3 separate regions of the Homo sapiens genome follow, and regions 2 and 3 are each linked to region 1. A link means that fine-mapping ties the variant in region 1 to the expression of a gene that starts in the linked region. Tissue or cell type: esophagus mucosa. Region 1 holds a variant in brackets; each other region holds the start of a gene. All regions are shown on one strand. Distances are from middle to middle.

The links. PIP is the estimated chance that this variant, and not a neighbour inherited with it, causes the effect.
Region 2: it holds the start of ZNF608, and the variant in region 1 is fine-mapped to the expression of ZNF608 in esophagus mucosa (GTEx, PIP above 0.99).
Region 3: LINC01170 starts here. The variant in region 1 is fine-mapped to the expression of LINC01170 in esophagus mucosa (GTEx, PIP above 0.99). The same link has a PIP of 0.9 or more in atrial appendage.

The regions. Positions count from the first base shown.
Region 1 is chr5:124,399,018-124,407,126 of GRCh38, reverse strand. All of the region lies in intron 3 of LINC01170 (long intergenic non-protein coding RNA 1170), which reads left to right. LOC105379155 (a long non-coding RNA gene) reads right to left here and starts at 3,617. Exons shown (of 3, transcript XR_001742872.2): 1 at 3,547-3,617. RefSeq lists a cis regulatory region at 4,898 and an enhancer at 4,814-4,983. The variant C/T (reference allele first, on the strand shown) is at 4,898.
Region 2 is chr5:124,743,324-124,751,432 of GRCh38, reverse strand. ZNF608 (zinc finger protein 608) reads left to right here and starts at 4,794. Exons shown (of 10, transcript NM_020747.3): 1 at 4,794-5,238; 2 at 6,261-7,349. The coding sequence starts at 6,444. RefSeq lists enhancers at 1-263, 2,556-3,554, 3,682-3,861, 3,555-4,553, 6,593-6,662 and 4 more and a silencer at 2,437-2,676.
Region 3 is chr5:124,434,571-124,442,679 of GRCh38, reverse strand. LINC01170 (long intergenic non-protein coding RNA 1170) reads left to right here and starts at 4,160. Exons shown (of 6, transcript NR_125774.1): 1 at 4,160-4,285; 2 at 4,804-4,983; 3 at 6,385-6,522. RefSeq lists an enhancer at 1-383.

The DNA of each region.
Region 1 (8,109 bases):
GGATAATGAGCATTTTGGTGACTATTGCAAAGAAAAAGGTGCTTATTTCTAAGGCAGAAAGAAAATATATTTTCATAGTTAATATATACATTAAAATTGTATGTACTTGCATATTAGATATACACAGTGTTAAAGCTATGGCTAATATATCATTTTGGAGAAAAATCTGAGTAAAAATTAACTCTTGTAAAGAGTTACTGGTGTCAGATGGCAGAGTCCCAAATGAGTGGATTCGTTTATCCCCACAATGTATCAGGTGATCACCTCTCATAAAAACTACTATTAACCTAAAAAATTAGGGTCAGTAAAAGCTTAGCTCTAATTCACAAATCTCAACAAGCTGAACTGTTAGACCCAGTGAGCTCATTAGGATAGATTAAAGACCAAACATAATGACATTACGAAATATGTGATTTTAATATGTTTGATCCTATCAGAGCAATCCTTTTAATAACATGATTTTATTGTGGAACCTTGTATGTTTTCCTTAAAAACCAAAAAGACAATCTAAAAATTTAACCCATTGTTGTTTCTTAGCTTGTAACCCCGTGATACTTGATTTAATTTGGTAAAGCTGACTGAAGTGATGCTATTCTGGGACATAATGACAGCAAAGATGACATGAGCCAATGCTGCAGCTGAATTTCAATTTTCAGTAAAAAATCCTCACCCCACCTGCCACTGGAATAGAAATAATATCAAGGGCTAACTTCTAATCTTGCACCCCTGTCATACATCATACTCTGGATTCCAACAGTCTACACCTATTTTCTTTTATAATGGTCCTAACCCCAAACAAGCAACCTAGGGTTTGTAGCAACAAAATCAGATCCTTACAGTGAACAGGACTTTGCAAAGCACCTTCTTCAGAATTAGTAATATTACTTACTTAATATGGGAAAAAACATACAAATCTTACCATCAATGGGCCAACTCATAACCAACAATTTATAGCATACAAGAACCTTCATGGTATCTTATTCAACCTTTAACATAATTCTATTTGTTATCATTAATTCTAAATCACAAATGAGGAAACAGAGTCAGAAACAGCTGATTTTTCACTGTGCTTGGGTTAGGTCCAACTCTGGAATTATCATATGCAAATAATGACAGAGAGAGGCTCTCATATAGTTGTAGAATTGTAACAAGACAACAAGCAATTCACATAAGTCATGGTTTCTCAGACAATAATCTTGTTTAGTAATTATTAGTCTTTATCTGAAACACATGGTTTGATGGTAAATTTTTTGAATAGGCGATAATAAAAAATAATTCTCAAAAAGAACCCTCAAAGTCAACTGTGTGTATTTCCTTCTTTCCTGGTGGGGAAAGTTTATAAGGGTTGGGGCAAGTCCCTTCAGACCCAGGAATTTGATAAACACCATCAGGGTTGTTGAGACCAACCTCACTGTGAGAGAGAAACAGAATGAATGAGATGTTGATATAGGAAAGGAAGTAGCTGAATTAAGAGTGTTTTCTTCTTTACTAACAGCCAGTCCACACGTTGAAAAGCATTCAGTTACAATTTTTATCTATAAAGAGTGGAACATTCGCCCAATGTCCCAGTACAATAGGACCATGAGAGTGAAGTTCCCTAAAGAACTCAACCATTTCCATGGATAGATGGCAGAGGAACACAGCTTTGCTGTCAGAATGATTTGTGACCAGGCCTAGATGGGGACTGGGGGCATCCTGGCAGGTTGATAATTTTATTTTAAAACCATATTCTTTCAATATTTGTACATTTATATCGAAGAGAGTCTGAGCTCTGTGTGGGAGCAATGTGCAGTGGGAACTTCTGGGTCCCTCGGTGTCCCCTTTCATGTCTTAGGCTATTTGGCTCTACCAGGTGTGGATATTCCACTCAGCACGGCTGTGCCCACAGAGGCTGTGCCTCTGGCTTGCTCTTCTTGGAAGTCAGATGCAAATATCGCCTTCTCGGGTCTTAGCCCCATCTTAGTATCCCATCCTTTTCCCTAAGAAGAAACGTGGCATATACAAGTTCCTCCATCTTGTGACATTTCCACGATTCTCTTAGCCCCTCTTACAGAACAGTTTCCCAAGCAGCAGCCTGCCTGATCCACCCTTAATTCAGCTGTGCGTCTGACAACATGTTCTACAGGAAAGATAACCTTGTACATCAGGTGTTTCCTGTTTCCAGTACCAAAAGGTCAGTACTTGATTACACATGTATTTACAAGGGTAGAGAAGGGAAATGATCAAAAGTTTTTACAACCATAGTCCTTCAATTAAGAAAGAAGTGGTCTTTAATTTTCTCCATTCTTTTTAAAAATTCTCTTTCTACCTTTGTTTAAATATCTCTCCTAACTAGGAAAGACCTGTTGTACATCATACAAGGCATACCAACCCACATACTAGAACACATAAGTAGGAGGAATAGTGTTCTAGAAGAGAATTACTATTTGGAGAAAAAAAGGCATAATTTCCTTTTACAGTCATGCATTGCTTAATGCCAGAGATACGTCCTGAGAAATGTGTGATTAGGCAGTATCATCATTGTGTGAACATAATAGAATGTATTTACACAAACCTAGGTGGTATAACCCACTATTCACCTAAGCAATATGGTACTGCTCCTAGGCTACAAACCTGTATAGCATGTTACTATACTGGATACTGTAAACAATTGTAACCCAATGGTAAGTATTTACATATCTAAACATATCTGAGCATTAAAAAGGTACAGTAAAAATACAGTATTCTAGTCTTACAGGATTACCACTATATATGCCCTTTGTCATTGATGGAACCATCATTATGCTGTGCTTGCCTATATTTCAAAATTCACTATAAAAAGATAGGTGAACCTCAGATCCATCTCCTAGATGTATGATTTCTAGCTGCATATTAACCTCAGTCACATTTTAATATTATTCACACAAAAATTAAAACACTCAGGTATTTGTGATGAAGTAATTTTGCCTAAATTTATTTTATTTCCAAAGAACCTGCATCAATTTGATTCAGTAACATTTAAAATCATTCAACAAAAATCTTTCAAACTTTTATGTTACAGTAATATTCAAACTCTTTTTTTGTGGCTCAAATCTTTTTATGAACTTCAATTATGTGAAAATATCCAATTTTATTTTTAAATAAAGATGTTTAGAAATGTATTGATATTTGTCAAATCTAAGTTGCAGCTATGTAAGTTTTTATTAAGTCATTCTCTGTGTATACTTCTAAGTATGTTGGACTTCTTACATAAAAAATTAAACGTTATTGAGGAAAGAAAAGGGAGAATAAGTTTCAAAAAGAAATTTATCTTTCTTTAGATATATATAATCATCACAAAATATTATCAGATAACAAATCTTGAATTTTACTTTAAATGAAAACATTTTTCAGATCTGTCTTACTAATTTTATGTAATTCCTTTTCACATGTTTCGTGAGGCTGATAAAATGCTTCGTAAGCAGGTATTCATGTGGCTCTATAACAAGTTATTTTTAGGAAGCTTATATACAAAAATACTTGCCACACTTTCTCTCACTCTCTGGACAGTCAGACAAGAAGGCTCACTTTCTCCAGGAATCTCCTAGTGCCAGGTTCTGGGCTGTGGACACCATGCTGGCCAGAGGAAGCTGCTGCACAGGTACAGAGGTGCAGAGGGTGGGGCTGCACTGAGAGGGCGGGGCGGGATCAGAAGTAATTTGACCAGTTAGGAAGCTACTGCAATAGCAATATTGATTATTTACTATGTGTCAGATGCTGTGCCATTGTGCTAGGTGCTGGGCATAGGAGTGAAAAAGACACCAAAGTCCTCAGTTCCAGGGAATTAATTTTTCTAGTAAACAAACAAACCAAAAAACAAGGAAAGTCATCATTACTATGGAGAAAACAACACTGGATCTTGTCATAGCGACTGAGGCCTCCACAGAAGGTGGGCTGTGTGTGTGTGTGTGTGTGTGTGTGTGTGTGTGTGTGTGTGTGTGTGTATGTGTATTATTTGGATAAACAAATTAGGGCCCATCTTTGGAGTTGGGGATGGGGTCAATCCCACCAGAATAGTGAAGGGATGTTTTCCATTTTCTTTCAGTTTTATCCATTCTCTTTGTTTGTTTTTCCAAAGAAAAGTCCAGGCGCTGATCCAGGATGCAAAAATTCATCCCCTTTAAAAGCTAGTGCCAGTTGTGGAGTGAGGATAGAAAAAGGGGAAGGAGAGGGAGCTTTGTGAATTCTCACACTGTGGTAATTTTTATTCCTGTTACAAATTAATTTTAAAAATCTATTATATACATTTTCAAGTTACCAAAGTGAAATCATCACAGCTCAAGTGCCTATGGTAGCAAACATGGATATTGCATAAATATATGGTCCCTAATAAATAAAAATTAAAATATTTGTATCTAACTGGAGTGTTTTTTAAAGTTAAAAATTAAAAATGAAATTAAATGAGAGAATGGGGCCATCATTAACAATTTAAAAAATGCTTAGTCTTTGGAAAGTGATTTAAAGTAGTAATAATTTTTTACCTTTTAGGCCTTTAATGACTATCAGTCCGCTCATCCAGCAGGAATGCCCATGTTTAGATTTAGTATTATTAGAGTTAGGTGTGTGCATGGCACAGTCCCAGAGTTCCATGGGAACATTCCCACCAGGGAGTGAGAGTTTATGCAGAGCAGCATCTATACTTCAGGTCATTACTGCAATTAGGCTTATTCTCGTCAGCTCCTACTTGGAAAGGATTAATGTTTTGATGTTTATAGACTGTTACCATGATTTTATTGTGGGCTCTGAGCCACCAGTTATTGAATCAGGGTTTCGCAAGAAAATATTCCTGTTTCACTGATCTCAAGAAACAAGGCAGAGGAAGCAGTGCTTCTGGCCATAGAGTCCCTGTGGCATGGGGCTGGGTTCTTACTGGCAATGC[C/T]GAGTCATCTGGTCAGAACACTTTACAACCACACAAAGAGGGCAAATAAGTGCAGAGCCAGCTCCTCTGAGCCCACAAAAGGTCCTGTTGAAATCTATTAATCTCCTCCGCTGAAGGGCAAGTGGAGACGATGACAATACTGAGGTGTGGAATAGAAGAAATGTGATAAGCGGCTCTATTTTGTTTCCACCTCTAGTGGCTTAGGAACACAGAGTGTTCGAGGTTCAAAGAACTGAGAAACCTCAACAGCCTTAGAGGTTGATTGTGAATATGTGGGTTTCTCTTTAGTAACCTTAGAAGGGCCACATTGTTTAATTGAAAAACTCAATAGCCCTTGTAAGTTTTCAAAAGCAAAATTCTCTTTACGCCTATGATCTTACTAACAATCAGATAAAAGCTCTTTCTCATCACAGTCCACCTATAATTTTTAAAAGGAAATTACCTAATCTGGGATTATAAATAAAACCTAAATAAACACACCTAAACAGCTCACTGAGATATAAATACCTGTCTATGTTCACTCAGGTGTAGGTAATTAGAAAAGAAATAAATGTACCTGGGGCCCAGCCCTGAGGCAATGAGGAAATCAGGGGAGTTTTGTTTTGGGCCTCTTTCAGGTTTCACTGTGGGTGCTTTTCCTTTCCTTCTTGACAATCCTTCCTCTGTCCTTGCACCCTGCCTCCCAGAGAAACTCGCACATATCTCATTCAAACTTTTAGCCTCTGTTTGTTTCTAGTTCTCAGCTCCCTGCTCCCAACCCTGCTCAGTCATTAACTAACAATTCACCTCTGAACTTACCCGTAATGGTACCCAGAGGGTCTCTGAGGCATGAAGTTCAGGAATCAGATGGGGAAGGAGGACAGAGTAGGGTGGGGAGGGCAGTGGCGGGTTTGGAACTTCAGGGTGAGACATTGCGTCTGCTGCCTTCTCAGATCCACCTGCAACTCACCAACCCAGCACTGGCCTATGGCCTTTCCACTCCTATTGCTTTTGCTGGCTGAGATCACTGGATTTTCCTTTGTATCTTTTCTTATTTATCTCATACCTTCCAAAATCTTCAGTAAACTGGAAAAAGTTCAAAACAAGCAATTTAGAATTTAAATAACTAAAAATAATAGTTTAAAAATAGGTTGGTGCTACCCCAAGTATAGTTCCCAGACCAGCAGCCTCGACACCAACTGGGGGCTGGTTAGGAATGCTGACTCTGGGGCCCAGCCCACACCCATGGGATCAGAATATAACGAGATTCCCAGGTAATATTCATATGCATACTAAAGTATGAGAAGTTCTTCTCCCACCCCTGACAATTACCCATTAAGGATTTGAATGATGGACTTGCTTGATAAAGGAAATGCCATGGTGACATGGCACCACTCACCATGTGAGTGCTTTTCACTCACACTTGCCCTTGAAAGAATGATTTGGGAAAAAAATATTAACATCAGATGTTCATACTGAAGAACATTCTTTGTCTACTTGGGTATTTTTAGCCTGTGGGGCAGGAGTATGCCATTACTTGAGTGTTATGCTACCCAATTTGGAGGAAAAAAGATGTGGTAGGCAGATAAAATAGATTCGTTTCAAATCAGGAGGATTTTTCAAAGTTTAGAGGAGAGAATTCTGGGGTATAAACAAAGGGAATGAAAAAAAGGGAAGAAGAATTGCTCAGAAATCCAGCTATGGACTACGTATCCTCTTCATAGCGTTAGAGATGTCCAGGTTTCTAACATGAGTTATTTGGAAAGTACACTTTGATTTTAGGACCATGTTTTTTGATGGCAGCACCTAGCCTGGGTCTGGCTACATTGTCATATCTTTGGCAGGGTTATGAAGGATTGTACTTCAGAACACCAACATCAGATTCAAGACAGTGTCACTCGTTAAACTCTGTCAAGGGCTGGGTATGGTGGCTCATGCCTGTAATTCCAGAGCTTTGGGAGGCCGAGGCAGGAGGATCACTTGAAGATAGGAGTTTCAGACCAACACTGGCAACACAGTGAGACTCTTTCTCTATTACAAAGAAAAAAGAAAAAAAAATCTGTGAAGTATTCCACTAGGGAACATTATGTTTTAGGTCACATTTATCTGCAGACAATGAACTAGACAGTGATAAAAATGGTAGAGTCTAGAACCATGTTTTCAATGACCATATCACCTTTGCTTTCATATTTACTTGAGCTTAAAGAAGGCTGCTTTGGGCTTTAATCACTTTTGGGTTGCATTACATTATCCTAGCATCTCTGGGACAAAAACTTGTTATATATAAGATATATAACAGTGAATATGTATAAAGTGTAGAAATAAACTCGCCCCTCTTCATAACTAAGTGTACTTTAGCATTTTGGAAAAAATAATGTACAACATGCAAATAAAAAATAATTAAAACATGCCTTTGGACAAGCATGCCTATAAAAACTAAGCAAAACCACAATAGTTGAATAGGTATCTGGAACATTGTTCTTTGGCAGGGAAATGGCAGAATCCCAAAATTCCTTCTTTTCTCTTAAAAAAAATTAATCTGCTCCTTTGGCAGATTGTGTTTTTTAAAGATGATCACAGAAACATTTCCTATCTCACAAACCTTTTCTATAAATATGACTTTGACATCCTTTCTCACAAAAGCTGGGATCTATGTTGCTTCCCCTTGGCATCGGGCAGGCTTTGATGACTGTTTGAAACAACGGACTATGGTGGAAATGTCCTCTGTAAATTCTGAAGCTAAATCACAAAAGGCAATTTCCATTCTGCCTTGCTTGCTGGAATGCTTACCCTTTAAGCTTTAGGCTGCTAATTAAGAAGTCATTCTCTGAAGAAGTCCAAACTAGCTCAGATAGAGAAAATGGAGAGACCCTGAGACTACACACAGAGAGAGAGAGAGAGAGATGAAGGGATGCTGGGCCAGGCCCTAGGTAGTCCAGCCCCCAGCTGTTCCAAATCCACCACAGGTAGACTTTGAGTTACAACCGTCCAATCTAATTCCTCACCCACAGAAACCAGGGAAGAAGATAAAATAATTGCACTTTTTTGAAGCCACTAAGTAACTGGCTGCGCTTATGTTACTGGTTCCTGTTTAACACCATTTTATGTCTTCACGCCAGTTTTCTGTGGTGATATCTAAATCTAAGAAAGAATTAATGTTGTTGCAGTGGGGGCGACATTGTTCAAATGGTAAGGAAAATCTTTAAAGAAAGGCAAGACTTAGAAAAACAAAG
Region 2 (8,109 bases), 340 kb before region 1:
CATCTCTATAAATACAGAAAACTTCCCAATTTTGTGAGAGGAGTAGCTCTGATTTTCAAAACTGGTAGTTAATTGTCTTAGTTTCAGTCATCAATTAGCTGATGGTCCTCTGATGCCTTTTGATTGGCCCCTTTGTCAAACAAAACAAAACAAAACAAACACAAGAAAAGCCAGTCTGACAACACTGGTTTATTCAAAAGTCTCCTGGAAGAACCTGGGAGGAAGGAGGTGGGGGTGGGGTGTAAATGGAGTGTGGAGATGTTGGAATGGAAGGAAATACTTTAATTTATCAAAATGGTTTGGGTTAAATATGTGGTAGAGTCGGGCCTAAGCCTTCATCTTGGGCCAGTAGGGTTTCTCAGAAAGGTTTAAGGTTTGGGTTTAAGTGTTGAAGCTCGGGTTAGATTAGATTATTTGATTATTACAAACCCTAAACTTTGGTTTTAGTTAGACTTCATCTGTGCTGCAGACGCTGTAATTTGTTTTGTATTGGAGGAACTCCAATCTTCTCCAGCTTCACTAGGTCTCATTTTTAAATGTCCCATTCTTTTAAGAACTACCTATATATTATTTCCAAACTAATATAACATATGGGGTAGGCATGGGCTTCCAAAGGCTGAGATGTAGATGACACCCCAGGGACACAGGAAGTGCCCAAGAGTGATCTGATCCTTTGAGAAATCACTCTTTTAGAAGAAGAAAAGTTAAAAAACAGTATGGTGCTGTATTCTTATCAATGGGGCATACACAAATGTAAAATCTGTATATTCAAAAATATAAAACAAATCTCAAAGCTAAAATGGAGGCTAGGTAGATATCAGATCCCTAATTTGCCCATTTTATTTGTTAAAGTACAGCTTTGATTTGAATACAAATTGACTTAGGGAGAGCTAAGGACTAGTACAGATTGCATTCCTCTGGTTTATATGTCCCAATAAAGGGTGGAAACTGCTGTTTATTACTATTTGCAGCCTCAAATCTAGTTCATTTATGGTAGTGAAACAGCTAATTGGCAATTTTTTTATGGACTAAATATATTGAAAGCTCAAACATGAGTCAATAGCCATTATTTAAAATATGTGACATAAATATTTTTATTGATCCACGAAGTCATCACTGAATATTTACATCAGAAGCTGTCTTCTGCTAGCACTCATTCACTTTACATGTCCATATGACTCAGTTAAGACACAACCTTAAATTACAATTGTCACGTGGAAATTACAATCCCAGTAGTACTGGATCTTTAAAACTTGGGATCATGATGCTTTCAGTTTACAGTAACCTTTGACTTTCAAATGTCCATATTGTAGCTTCTAAAAACAATGAAGGTAACAATAAAAAATTAAAAATTAAATGTACTCTAAAGGCTTAATATATGTAAATACATTAGCTTAAATATGTTAGCTGTTATAGTAAAATGTTAAACTTGTTATTTCATATTAACCTCTCTTATCCTATGAGCTGAGTCTCATTAACTTGGTTGCTGGCATTTGTCCTACAATAAATTCTAAAATATTTCTGTGTTTGTGGATTGTAGATGTAGCATTCAGAGGATTCATGATGCCCCCTTCCCCACCAGTGGGGTTAAAGATATGGGGGAAGAGGAATTCTGACCCTTCCACAGTTTAAATACGTGTACTGGGACTGTTTAACAGTTAATCTTCCTAGTACATTTAACTTTCATAAGTCGATTTTTTAAAAGATGAGGCTGGCCCGAGGTGTTACTATGTTTAGCTGGGGCCTTATTTTAATATTAAGTTTTTCTTTTTTGGAGTCACATAACACCAGGTGGAAAAGATTTGTTACTAATTCCAGGGAAGAACCATTCACATAGTGTTGGTTAAATGGTCGCCTGCGTTCACACTTCAGTGCCTGTAGACCAGAGCCCTGGAAACAAAAGGGTTACTTGTTTCCCCACCATCGCCTTTACCCGCAGATCGATTTTTCTTATTTAATCAGCGAGTAAAAAGAGAGACACAGGGAAGAAAAAAAAAAAAAACTGCAGGAAGGGCAAAGTGGTGGGGGGAGGGTTGAAAGCCAGAAGCTGCAATACAGAAAATCAGTCTTGGGAGTTGGGCTGCGAAGTCCTTGGAACAAGGAAGGGAAGCCGGCAAAATGCTCGCAGTCAGTTCCACACAGCCAGCCTCCCTTTTCTCTTCGCTACGCGCTAGCGGCTCGTTTGGCTTCTCTCTGCCACCGAGCGATCACATACATTATTTCCCCCAAGATAACACAATCAAACTTGTATTTACCGACATCCTCTCCTCGCAGCCTGTTTGAGATTTGTTTTAATAAATAAGTGTTTTATGTGAATGATGTAGTAATTGAAAGGGGCGCACCATTTTTTTGCCTTCTTACTGCGGGAGGTTCCTCAACCCCAATCTGGTTGGAAAATAAAACGCTTTGTCTCCACAACCACCCCCCACAGCACCCCCACCCGCTCTCAGTGTGTGTTTTATACGTGTGTATATCTCAACCCCCTACAGTAGCCAAGAGAAAGCAGCTAGCCAATGAGAGAGCCCAGTTTCATAAAAGCTGCTCTCTGATTGGCCCGATGCGAAAGGGCACTGGGAACAAAGAAAAGTCCCTTTCAGGTATAGAGGCTGAGAGCTTCTTTTGCTCCACTCCCCCTGTGTGTGTGTTGTGTTTCAGTCCTGATTTAGTGTTGCAGAACAAGCTTGTTGTGTGTGTGCACCAGGGGGATTTTTGTTTTGCTTTTTTTAAATTTTAATTTTTGCTTTTATAAAAAATACACAGGACGGTCTGTGACATTTGATGGTCCATCTTCTTTAATAATAAATTTGTTGAAGAGATTATAATTTCCAAAATAAAGCGGCTGCAACCAAACACATTCAATGCAGTTAGAAGGAAAAGGTCAACTCGATCCAATACAGACCGTAAGTACGGTTGCGTGGTGTGTCTCTATATAGCACTTAGCGGGGACTTCATGCAGGGGAATGTGCGAGTTTTATGCATAGAAATGAGGAACTAGTTACAGGGTTTGGCTTTTGCATTTAGAACAACAACCCAAGAAGGGTGAATTTTATTCAGTGGAGGGTGAAGCATTTGTAACTTCACACAAATTAAGCTTGACTGGGCACTCGGGGTAACTTAGAGGAAATTAGCTTTTGGGCTCTAACCCAAAGGAGAATAAAAGTGACACAGTTGCATATCCTGGTCTGCAGTGTCAATTCTCTAGCTCACCTTACTCCCTCCCTCTTCTGTCCTAGCTGGGCAGACCCCCCTCCCAAAGCGATCCAGGAAAATGGGGGCAAGGGCAGAACAAGCCGATTTCTGTCTCCTGTCAGATCCCAGTGCCCGATAATTTAATATTAAACAAGGGAATAGTCACTCATTACATGTAATGGTTATAATTACCATTCGCCATCTCCTTAAAAAAGCAAGCAACAAAAATACCATTAAGAGAAAAAATAAAAGCCCCACCCAACCCAAACAAACCCACAAATAGTAACAATGGTGTATTTATTACAGGACCAGGCTGGGGAGCAAGCAAAAGGTTTTTCTTTGTTTAATACATGAAGTGGGGGTCCCTAAAATCCAAGTAGCTCGGAGATACCCTTCTCCCTCCCCCAGGCGTCCCCGTCCCTGGCCCCTTGGGAAAGCCGACAAATTGGAGATAAGTTGAGGAAAGGTTTATAAAGTGTTTCTTTAAAACATCTGCTTTGCTCTTGTGCTCATTACATTTCGCTCCTTCCGAACTTCGGAGATCCTAGATCTCCGAGAAATGTTTCACATTCATAACTTGTAGCTTCGCCCACTGCGGGGGGGCGGGGGGAGGAGGTTGGGGGAGTGTGTGCAGGGGGAGGGGAGAGACTTTCAGCTTTTTTTTTTTTAAAGACCAGATCAGTATTTTCTTGATACGCTTGTCACCATTTTTGTTCTCACGACAACCAATTGAGCCCTTGATCCTCACGTGATGTGAAAGGCTTGCACTGTAACAAAATCGCTCCTTTTAGATGGTTGGTTGTTACTAACTCGCCCATCCCCCTCTCCCAGCCCCGACATTTCCAGCAAAGCGACTCTCCACTTCCAATCCATCAACAATTCATTACTGCTTTTAGCTTCCAAACGCCAGCTAATTAAAAATACTAAGCCAAGCTCCGGGGCCATCTGACTAAACACAGGAGGGGCTGGGCGAAGGGAGAGGAGAGAAAAAATAAATAAAAGGGAGACACACCGTTTGCTGCGAGTATAAGAGGGAAAAACTCCCGAAAAGGGTCGCCTTAAAAAAAAAAAAAAAGAAAACAAAAACCTTATTTTGACTCTAATTATCGAATTACCACATGACTGGCTGACCTGAGCGACAGAGGATTCCACTCCCCTCGGGAGCTATACTAGGAACTCAGTTCCTTTTTCTTAAAACAACATAAGACAGGAAAACATCACATCCTTTAGGTTTCGAAGACTGAGCCCATTTTAAACGCCGTTATTTTCCCCACCCCACCGCCCCAAGCCCCCCGCCCCCCGCCCCGAGCGAATGCTGTTATAACTGGTTTATCAGCTCACTGAATCATCTGCTGTCTCCTCCTCCACACCTTTCTTTTTCTCCTCTTGCCCAGTTTCTCATCCCACCCTTTCTTCTCCTCCTCCTCCCTCTACTCCCCCCCTCCTTTTCTCTTAAGTTAGTTCAAGAAATCAAATCTGTCAGGACGGGCGGAAAAATGCCACTTCCCGACTAACAGGCGGAATCCAGCCCAGATTTTCAGTCCTTTCTTCTTATTCTTTCTTCCCTTTCACTAATTTATCCCGATGTTAGCACATTCTGTCTCGTTACTAGCGGACGCCTGTAGGTTTGCTACATGGGATCATTACTGATCACGGTGACTCTGAAGTCTGGAACTGAAGGCGGAATGAGAAGTTGGGAAAACTTTTTTCTCTAAACTCTCTGTTTTTTAAAAAACTATTATTCTCGATGCTTGTTAAGAGGAAAAAAAAACCTTTGGTGCTTCTGTTGTGAATGTGAAACATTATTTTCCAGCTGTACAGTGACACATTTTTTTTAAGGAGAAAAGGACTGATTCGTTTGCCAAAAGGGGGGTGGGGAGGTGGAATAATGTTATCGAGTGATTATTCTGGCTGAGATGTGTTATTTGGTTTCTTCCTTCTTGATCATTTGGTGTTTAAGTAAAATGAGGCACAGGCTTGTTTGCCGAGTGGAGTGGGAAAGGCATTTTGATTTGCTGGCCTAATTAAAAAATGATAAAGGATTAAAAGGTAAGCAATGTCTGTGTGTGTGTATGTGTGTGTGTATGTATATTTATTTATTTTTTTCTTGACAATCAACTGTTAAAAAGGGGCTGATCCCTTTAAAAACCGTTTTAACTGCTCTTTGTCAAACACACTCATTTGCGGTCATTGAGGCCACCTTGGCGCAGATCACTTAAAGTGTATGTCTTAATCAGTTTTCTGTACAGTCAGTAGCACCGTATTTAAGAGAGTGAGCAATTCTCTGACCTAGGAATATGGTAGAATTGTTTAAATGTATTTTTTTCTCAAAAGGCAGGTATTTAACTTTTTATATAACACTGTCTTTTCTAGAGAGAAATGCTCTTAAAAGACATGCATATTTCAAAAAAGAAATTGTAGAAGCTGTTTGGGAAAAGAGGATAGGAGGGAGGTATGTGTGTGTGTTGGGGGCAGTTATTGGTTGTTTTTTCTGTTCCTTACTAGGAACAAAAAACAGATTGCCCAGACAATTTGTAAAAAGAAGTACTGAAACCTAAATTAGAAATAAGGAAAATTTAGCAACATTCTATTCTGAAAACTAGCCTCAGAACTTCCAGGGTCTGGTCTTCTAAATTGCAAGATCTAGGACATGTTTAGGGATGTTTAAAGCTGTGTTCTTCCTTCTTGTCTGAGTGTTCAGGCTGTGTTTCTGGGGTTGAGATATCACATGTGCCAGACTGAAATCCTAAACTTTAAAAAAGAACACAAAAACCTTTCTGGACTTGAATCAGATCCTTAAGATAATTTAATGCTTTTAAAAAGGTGATTATCCTTGTGTTGTTGATAAAGGGATTTTCTTTTTAGCTACCGTAAGATGCTTACTGTCATAGGTTTATTTTTCGGGTTTGGTTATTTTCCTTTAAACCTGATATTGGACTGTGAGGACAATACATGAGCCACCTTACTCTCCATCCTTCCCTGTCCCCTTTACTGATTCCCCAATACTAATCGTTTTTTATTCTGGTAACACCCAGACAAGAAATATTCGACTTTTCCCCCCCCCTTCACAGGAAAAGGTGGACCTGGACTGAGGGTGTAAAATCCCTGGACACATTCGTGGGGCAGGAAAAAGAAGAGGAAGATTAGAAGATTTTTTTTTTCTTTGAGAGAAAGCCCAGCGGAGATAAACGAATGTCCCCTCATCTCCAAAGAAAAGTTCATCGGATTTTTATTCTAGAGAGCTCATCTTCAGGATGTCAGTGAACATTTCTACTGCAGGAAAAGGTGTGGATCCAAATACAGTTGATACTTATGACAGTGGCGATGATTGGGAAATCGGGGTTGGAAATTTAATAATTGATTTGGACGCTGATTTGGAGAAGGACAGACAGAAATTTGAGATGAATAATTCCACCACCACCACTAGTAGCAGCAACTCCAAGGATTGTGGAGGTCCGGCCTCCAGTGGGGCTGGTGCTACCGCAGCCTTAGCTGATGGCCTAAAATTTGCTTCTGTTCAGGCCTCTGCTCCCCAGGGGAATTCACACAAAGAGACCAGCAAATCAAAAGTGAAAAGGAGTAAAACTTCTAAGGATGCTAATAAATCTCTGCCTTCTGCTGCCTTGTATGGGATTCCCGAGATCAGCAGCACTGGCAAGAGGCAGGAAGTCCAAGGGCGCCCTGGAGAGGCAACTGGCATGAATTCAGCGCTGGGTCAAAGTGTGAGCAGCGGCGGCAGCGGCAACCCAAACAGCAATAGTACCAGCACCAGCACCTCTGCCGCCACCGCGGGGGCAGGCTCCTGTGGGAAAAGCAAAGAGGAGAAGCCAGGTAAAAGCCAGAGCAGCCGAGGCGCCAAGCGGGATAAGGATGCGGGGAAATCCAGGAAGGACAAGCACGACCTGCTTCAGGGCCACCAGAATGGCAGTGGCAGCCAGGCCCCTTCCGGGGGGCACCTCTATGGCTTTGGGGCCAAGAGCAATGGAGGTGGCGCGAGCCCCTTCCACTGCGGGGGCACTGGGAGTGGCAGCGTCGCCGCTGCAGGGGAAGTTAGCAAAAGTGCCCCGGATTCAGGGCTCATGGGAAACTCTATGTTGGTAAAGAAGGAAGAGGAGGAGGAGGAGAGCCACAGGCGAATCAAGAAACTGAAAACTGAGAAGGTAGGATAAAGTCGCCTTCCTAGATGTCCTACTCTCCTCTGTGTGCATTTGTGTGGGTGTGTGGGGGTGTGCCTCTGTGTGCCTTACACTTTATGCTTTCTGGTTCTTTGTGAGATTTCTATGATATGCATCCTTTATATTAAAATTTGATATGGGGGAGCCTACTTGGGTGCAGTGTTTGGCTCTTGCTTCTGCTGTCCTTGCTGCTGCTGCTGCTGCTGCTGCTGCTTGTGATGCTAGTGTTTGGGTTCCCAGGTGGGAGGGCCTGAGTGTTCTAAGTACCTTTTGCCCTGTAGATCGGTTCCTCACTAGTCAGCAGGTTGCCGTGTGCTTTTAATAGAAAACCTGCTCATGCACCCTCTTGACTCTTGTCCTGCTTTCTTCCTTAAGGGGAACAGTTTTCTATTTTAATTTATTCATCCTAGTATTGCGGGTAATGTGTCCTTAGGTGCAAGGTTCAAGTTCCCTCCCTGGAGAGGAATGTCGAGGATTCGAATTTACATTCTACAGACCTCATCCCTTTTATTTTTTCTTACTGTCTCCAAAATAGTACTGTGAAAGGATATCCTTGAATGAGTTCTTGTTATTGGTCCTGAATGAAACCCCAAGCTTGATGTGTTGGGTCATTGGTTTCATAACTGCAGAAAAACTCGATGGTTTTGGTGGCTGTTAGCACTCTACCCCTGTTCCCTCACCCAGTTCTTAGCTAGAGATTTAAGAGTGTTATCACTTGGATACCTGACTGGGGAGCTGGACGGCT
Region 3 (8,109 bases), 36 kb before region 1:
GTCTATAAAATAAACAGACAATAGATAGATTAGCATGAGAAAAGGCATACAAATTTGTTAACGTGCAAGGGCACAGGAGTCACACAAAGTATGAAGGGCAAGATGACTGAAGCTTGAATGCCCTCTTCATGAGGGACAGGGAAACAGGAGATTGATATGGTTTGGCTGTGTTCCCACCCAAATCTCATCTTGAATTGTAGCTCCCATAATTCCCATGTGTTGTGGGAGGGAACCAGTGGGAGATAATTGGATGATGCGGGCAGTTTCCCCCCTACTGTTCTCTTGGTAGTGGATAAGTCTCATGAGATCTGATGGTTTTATAAGGCGGTTCTCCTTTCTCTTGGCTCTCGTTCTCTTTCATCTTCATGTAAGATGTGCCTTTCACCTTTCACCATGATTGTGAGGCTTCCCCTAGCTACATGGAACTGTGATTCCATTAAACCTCTTTTTCTTTATAAATTACCCAATCTTGGGTATGTCTTTATCGGCAGCATGAAAACAGACTAACACAGAGATGTAGGCAATTTTAGAGAAAGAGTAAAGGATTTTTAGGTGGATGAATGGACCTGAAGAAAAGACAATAATCTGGGACAAAGTTCCTCTGGGCTCTGGGTGTGATGTCAATTCTAGTCTTCTTTCCTTCTAGTTAATCTTCCCGGTTTGATGAGATTATAGGGAGGAGGTCCAAGACAACTGCATTCCTTCTGGAGGAACATTGTTAGTCAGATAGGAGAATTTCAAAGGAAACCCTTCCCTGTGCTTCTGGAGGAGCAGAGGGGCAATAGACAGGAAGGCAGGAGGTCACCTTGGTGCTGAGGTTGCTTCTTTAGTTGAAAGTACTCAGCATGTCCAAGTGCCAGGCTTTGAGGTATCATTTTTCTAAGCCCCAGCACTAGTTATTTCACACATTGCCAACATGCCCAAAACATTTTGTTTTCCAAGCAATTTATTAAGACAATGACACTCCTCCTCATATTCCAGGGAATTATATTAATTATTAATGTGCACTGTATTATGTTACCATTTAGTGTAAGACACATCCTGGGTTTACTCTATGACTAGTCAGTTTGGAAGACCACCCAGCCTGGAACCCCGGGTGGTCTTGGGAAGAGCTTGGGTATTGGAAGTCAGCTCTGTATTTGGGTCCTGGCTCTCCTGCCTACCATCAGTGTGATGCCACACCATTTACTTGACTTTTTGGAACTCAATTTTCCTCTCCCTTAATAGGATTAGAAATGTATAGCATGCAGGTGAAGGACCTGGGATAATTAATTATACCAATTATATATTGGTAATATTAGTACAGCATAGAGTAGTGGTTCTAAAGTATGGTCCCCAGACCAGCAGGATCAACATCATGTATTACAAAGCAAGTTCTTGGGCTTGAACCCAGACCTACTGAATCCAAAACACTAGGGAGAGAGCTCAGCCATCTATGTTTTAGCTAAAGTTGGAAACTATTAGCAGAATGGTTAAGAGTGGAGAGCTCATTTAGAAAATTGGCTAATGCATACATTTACCTCATACAGGAGTTGTAAAGCACTCAGTGTTTGGCACTGAGTAGGCACTAGATAAATGTCAGTATTATTTACATCTGAGAAACAGAGTTTGTGTGCTGAAAACAGTATTTGAGTCAAATGTTCCTCTTAGGTAGGCAAAATATAATCGCTGCTAGGCACATGAATTTTGGACTGAGACAATGTGCGTTCAAATCTCATTTCTGCCAACATAGAAGCGATTGGTTTTGGGAAAGTGTCAAGGTCTCAATGTTCTTATCTGTAAAATGGAAATAGTAATAGTATCAACTTCAAGTAATTATAATGGCACTATAACATGAGTAGTAAGGTGTTGACAAAGATTTTCTCCTTGACCAATCTCTAGTCAGGTTATACTGATGCCTTTGCTAGACCGGACCTGACCGTAGGCTTCTGTCTCTAGCCTTGTAGAATCCGGTTTTAGCAAGAATCTTGAAAAGTTAGTTTAGAGAGAACCTCTCCCCTTGGTAATGGATGACACACACTATCTGATCAAATTCCTCATTGTCCACCATCTGCCAGCTGACGTCTGACCACTTTGGCCTGCTATCAGCAAGAATCTTGTTAGGTCAGATTAGCCAGAATCATTTTAGGCAGAATCCCCTCTTCCCATGATATTTCTTCTTAGCAATTTTCCATTCAGTGTCCCACCTCACTATAAATCTTCACTTTTCCTTATATTCAATGTTGAGCCCAATCTCTCTCCCCTACTACAAAACTGTATTGCAGCAGTATCTACTTTTATCACAATAGCCCTGAATAAAGTCTACCTAGCCATTTTAACAAATGTCAGAAAAATTGTTTCTTTACCAGCATGTTGGATGAAAATGTTAGTTGTTAAGAATTACTCTTCAAACAGAAGTAGTCTAATTGAATGACAAATGCTCACCCAATGATTTTATGTCTTAAGATTGTCATGGAGAATTATCTTATTATAAATTCCTGCTTACTCTTGAAGCTTCAATATAATTTCACCACTTTTTTTTAAGCTTCAGGATCAAAAAATATCCCACGATTTTCAATGAAATTAATCTGTGTGCTTAATTTGATGCTCCATTTAAAAAACAATACAGTGTCTCTGATAGTACCTCAGAAATAAATACCGTATGGCCTGGCATGGTGGTGTGTGCCTGTAGTTCCAGTTACTTGGGAGCTCCCGAGGCCAGGAGTTTGAGGCCAGCCTGGGCAGCATAGTGAAATCACATCTCAAGAAATTTTTTAAAGTTGTAAAAAAAAGAAATAAGTACTATAACTAGCAGCTGCCATCCTATATGAGAGGGTTACTCTATGTGTACATCTCCAGATGAAGGGTGACTCAGAGTAACACCACATTTAGTGCGATGCCATACCCAGTTTCACACTCTCAGATGAGGCTTTGTTATTCTTGAAGACTGAGGTCCCGTAGGTAGCCTGGAAAACAGTTCACAAAAGGCTCTCTGAATAGTGAATGCACATGCTTAACAAATCTGTTTTTGCTAGTCTCCATTACCTTCCTTCAGCAGGTGTAAAGCTTTAGTTCTGATATTCCTCTCCATTGTAGATGCCTGGCTCTAAGCCTTCTTTGTTTCTACCCAGATGCCAGCTTCTAGTTAACTATTCTTTTTTTTTTTTTTTTAAGCTACCAACCATCTGGAGGAAATCTGATTGGGGCTAGGGTCATTTTTGTACCTTTTAAAATGCGGTGTAGGTAAAAGGATTTGTCAAACCCATGAATGACCCTTCTCAGATCTCAGAGGCACTTCAGATTGGCAAGGGACTCCTTCATGAAGAAGCTGACTCAAGCAGAGGTAGCAACAGAGGCAAAGAGGAGCATGCTGAAGCTACAAGATGGGTTGAGAAATATAGATCTGCCCAATTATAATTCAAACAAAAACAAGTGAGAAACTGTAGTCGGTTGAGGCACTCTTGGCCGAGCATCTGGGCTTGGCATGCATGCATGCATAATTAGGCTTCAGGCAGCTGCAGGCTTCCACAGTGCAACAGGGCAGGCAGGATATCATAATACACAGTAGGTTGCATATCAATGAAACTCTTTTTAAATTCACATGAAGCCTAAGATAAAAAGACATCAGCAAAAATTAAACAGCATTCAAAACGGCAGTGAATTGTGATACAGGCCACCAGGAAAACGATGAAACCCGACCTGGTTTCCCCCCATTGTTCTGTTTCCTTCACACAAATAGATTAGAGCAACAGTGCTGACTTTGTTTTAAAATACACACACTCATTAGATCAAAGTGATCAATGCACATTTAAGCAACTTTCAAGGCATCACAGGAAGAGTGAAATGGTCTGCTTTATTTTGAAAGACAACAGAGAAAATCACACACATGCATCGGGGCATTGTGATATGCAGATGGTTGGCTTTCAGAAGAATTAAATATTCATGGAAGATAAAAATCTCTCTCATTATATTTTTAATGTATATGAGGCTTTGGGCTCAATGCCCTCTGTGTTCACATAACAGACAGACCCTGTTCTCCAAACACATGGATCTGCACACAAGGACGGCTCAGATCACATCCCGAGATGTCACCCTGGCCCGGGCCGGTCAGGCCCTTCCACCGCAGGGCTGCCCCATGGCAGCCAGTGACACCGCTGAGACAACTTTGCCGTGGCCTTACTTTCATTTCCTTGGTTGTTCAGTTTATGGCAAAAGACCCTCAGCTGTGTTTTGTTTACTAATTCCCCTAAGCCTGCCTTAAATCCAGACTGCCAGGGCCACAGGAAATCTTTCAGACCCCTGACAGGTACGGGTAAGTCTCTGAGGTACCTGGGCGTTTGCATTTGCTTCTATTACTAACCCACGTGCAGCATTATAACCTTCCTGCTTTTTCTTGTTTATTCCATGTCTTTGTTTGACAGAGATTCAAAGGGGTTTCTCAGAGGCTTTTAATCTGATTAACTACACATGGGTGACCACTGTAAGGGTTGGGATGCTACAGGACAGGCAGCACTGTCGGGTAGGGTCAGATTTGTCATCCCTCCTGCCCTCGCTTTCCCCAACACACTCCCAGTTTTCCCCTCCCCCACCCCGTGTGCCAGCTCACTCAGAAAATAGGATTCCAGATATGCTTTTATTGAGGAAGAATAATTAAAAAAAAAGATGTGTTTCTTCTTCATAGGGTGCTGAAATAATGAATTTATTAACCTTAGATCAGTGAAATGAATGAAAACTAAACCTGCTTAAAGGAAAGCATTAAGGTGAGAAAAATAAATATTCCTCTACATTTCAATTTGATTCTGAATTTAGTTCATTTTACTCCAGTTAGAAAATTGGCTCCACCTATGGCATTCACTGGAGTAGTCATCATCTTCTACACCGTGTCATTTTCCGTGCTTCTTTGTACATACATTCTTTCCTATGCTTTAAGACTGTATCGTCTATAGAAGATGAGTAATTATGATGAAGACTGAATCGTCACAGCATTTTGTTGTTGGCGTTCAGGTAATTGTAGCTGCGCGTGAGGTAGTTATTTGACCAGGTCTAATGTGTTGAATTGGTCTCTTGCTTTTTTTTTTTTGGTCACTGCTGTTGCCCTCCAATAAATTCCATCTTATCTTCAACTTAGATTTAAATACATGTGTTTTCTAGGTGTTGTTTCTATGCTCATATTTTAAACACAAGCATAAATGTACTTACATTACTGGATTCCAAAATGTAAATAGGTAGGACACTCAGGAATCAGATCTAACTTCCTTTTATCCCCCTGTCTGTGAACTGTGCTTTCAGTAAAAAGTAATGTTTCCATGTTGGGAATTCCCATTATTTCTTTTAAATATCCTCTAAAGCCCTGGTTTAAATAGGAATCAAAGTTCTTATTCCAGTGAGTGGAACAATGCAGTAATATAGATGTAGGGATCAAAGACATCACTGAACCATCAGCCTCCTGCCTCCAGTGTAGCCAGCCATCCTCAGCCATCCCCAGAAGCTGCATCCTCAGGGGCAGCACCCGGGGCTGAACAGTGAGCTGGCCAGGCTGGAGGGAATCTCCTCAGGGGAAATGTGTGAATAGACCCTGATTTGGAGGCAATATCCTCCCCCGCACCCTTTATTGAGGTATGATTAACACATAAAAATTGTATATATTTTTTACAACATGATATTTTGATATATACTGTGAAATTATTACCACAATCAAGCTAACATCCATCACCTCACGTGGTTACCTCTGTTTCCCTGGTGAGAACACTTAAGATCTACTCTCTTAGCAAATTTCAAGTACACAATACATTATTACTAATTATGGTCACCAAGCTGGACATTAAACCTGAACTTATTTATTTGAGAACTTAAAGTTTGGCTGAGTGTGGTGGCTCATGCCTGTAATCCCGGCACTTTGGGAGGCTGAGGTGGGAGGGTCACTTGAGACCAGGAGTTTGAGACCAGCGTGGGTAACAATGACATCCCATCCTTACAAAAATTAAAAAAACTATCCAGGTATGGTGGTGTGCACCAGTAGTCTCAGCTACTCAGGAGGCTGAGGTAGGAAGATCTCTTGACCCCAGGAGTTCAAGGCTGAAGTGAACTATGATTACCCCACTGCACTCCAGCCTGGGTGACACAGCAAGACCTTGGCTCTTTAAAAAAAAAAAAAAAGAAAGTTTGTACCCTTTGAATAATATTTCCCCTTTTTTTTCCATGACTCAGCCCCTGGTCATCACCATTTTACTCTCTGTTTCTATGTATTTGACTTTTTTTTAAAGATTCCACATGTACATGAGACTATGCAGTATTTATGTTTATTTATCTGGCTTATTTCATTTAGCGTAATGTCCTCTAACTTCATCCATGTTATTGCAAATGGCAAGATTTCGATTTCTTTCTCCTTTTTTTTTTTTAAGATAGGATCTCACATTGTCACTCAGGTTGGAGGGCAGTGGTGGGATCACAGGTCACTGCATCCTTGACCTCCTGGGCTGAAGTAGTCCTCCCGCCTCAGCCTCCGTGGTAGCTGGGACTACAGGCACATGCCACTGCACGCAGGTAATTTTCTTGCTTTTTTTTTTTTTTTTGTAGAGACAGGGTTTTGCTATGTTGTCCAGGCTGGTCTTGAGTTCTCAGGCTCAAGGGATCTGACTACCTTGGCCTCCCAAAGTGCTGGAATTATAGTCATGAGCCACCATGTCCGGCCAGATAGCCTTCATTTTTAAGGCTCAATAATAATATTCAATTGTGTGTATTCGTCCATTCTCACACTGATATAAAGAATACTACCTGAGACTAGGAATTATAAAGGAAAGAGGTTTAATTGACTCACAGTTCCACTGGCTTAATGGGAAGCATGACTAGGAGGCCTCAGAAAACTTATAATCATGGCAGAAATTGAAGGGGAAACAGGCAACTTCTTCACAAGGCTGCAGGAGGGAGTGTGTGCAAGTGTGAAGGAGGAACTGTCAAACACTTATAAAACCATCAGCTCTCATGAGAACTCACTCACTATCATGAGAACGGCATGGGGAAAACCACCCCCACGATCCAGTCACCTTCCACCAGGTCCCTCCTTTGAGGTGGAGATTACGGGGATTACAATTCGAGATGAGATTTGGGTGGGGACACACAGTCAAACCTTATCAGTGTGTTGTAGGACACTTAGATTATTTCCTTATTTTGGTTATTATGAATATTGCTGCAAGGGGGAATGTGGGAGTAGAGCTATCTTTTTGAGATAGTGATTTTATTTCCTTTGGATATATACCCAGAAGAGGGATTGCTAGATCGTATGGTAGTTCTATTTTTAATTTTTTGAGGAAACTCCATACTATTTTCATAGGGCTGTACCAATTTATAGTCTCACCAACAGTAGATAAGTGTTCCCTTTTCTTCACATCTTTCCCAACCCTCATTATCTTTGACTTTTTGATAATAGCCAACCTAACAGGTGTGAGGCAATATCTCACTGTGGTTTTGATTTGCATTTCCTTGATGATTAGTGATGTTGGGCATCTCTTCATGTACCTGTTGGTCATTTGTATATCTTCTTTGGAAAATTTTCTATGCAGCCCTTTTACCCATTTTTCACTTGGGTTATTTTGTTGGTTTGTTTGTTCATTTGTATGGTATTGAGTTGTAAGAGTTTCTTATATATTTTTGATATTAACCTTTCATTGGACATACAGTGTTCACATATTTTCTCACATTCCATAGGATGCCTTTTCATTTTGTTGATTGTTCCTTTTGCTGCGCAGAAATTTTTAATTTGATATAGTTATACGTGTTTGTTTTTGCTTTTGTTGCCTGTGCTTTGAGTGATAAGTAAAAAAAAATTGCCAAGAAAAATTTCAAGGAACAAAAGTTTTCTTCTATTTTTATAGTTTTCTATATGTTTTCTTCTAGTTTTGTAGTTTCAGATCTTGTGTATAGGTCTTCAATTCATTTTGAGTTAACCTCTGTGTATGGTATAAAGTAAGATTCCAATTTTATTCTTTTGCATATGCATATCCAGTTTTCCCAATGCCATTTATTGAAGAGATCATCCTTTCCCTATTGTATATTCTTGATGCCTTTATCAAAAATTAGTTGACTGTAGTATACATGTGGGCTTTTTTCTGGGCTCTCTATTCTGTTCCATTG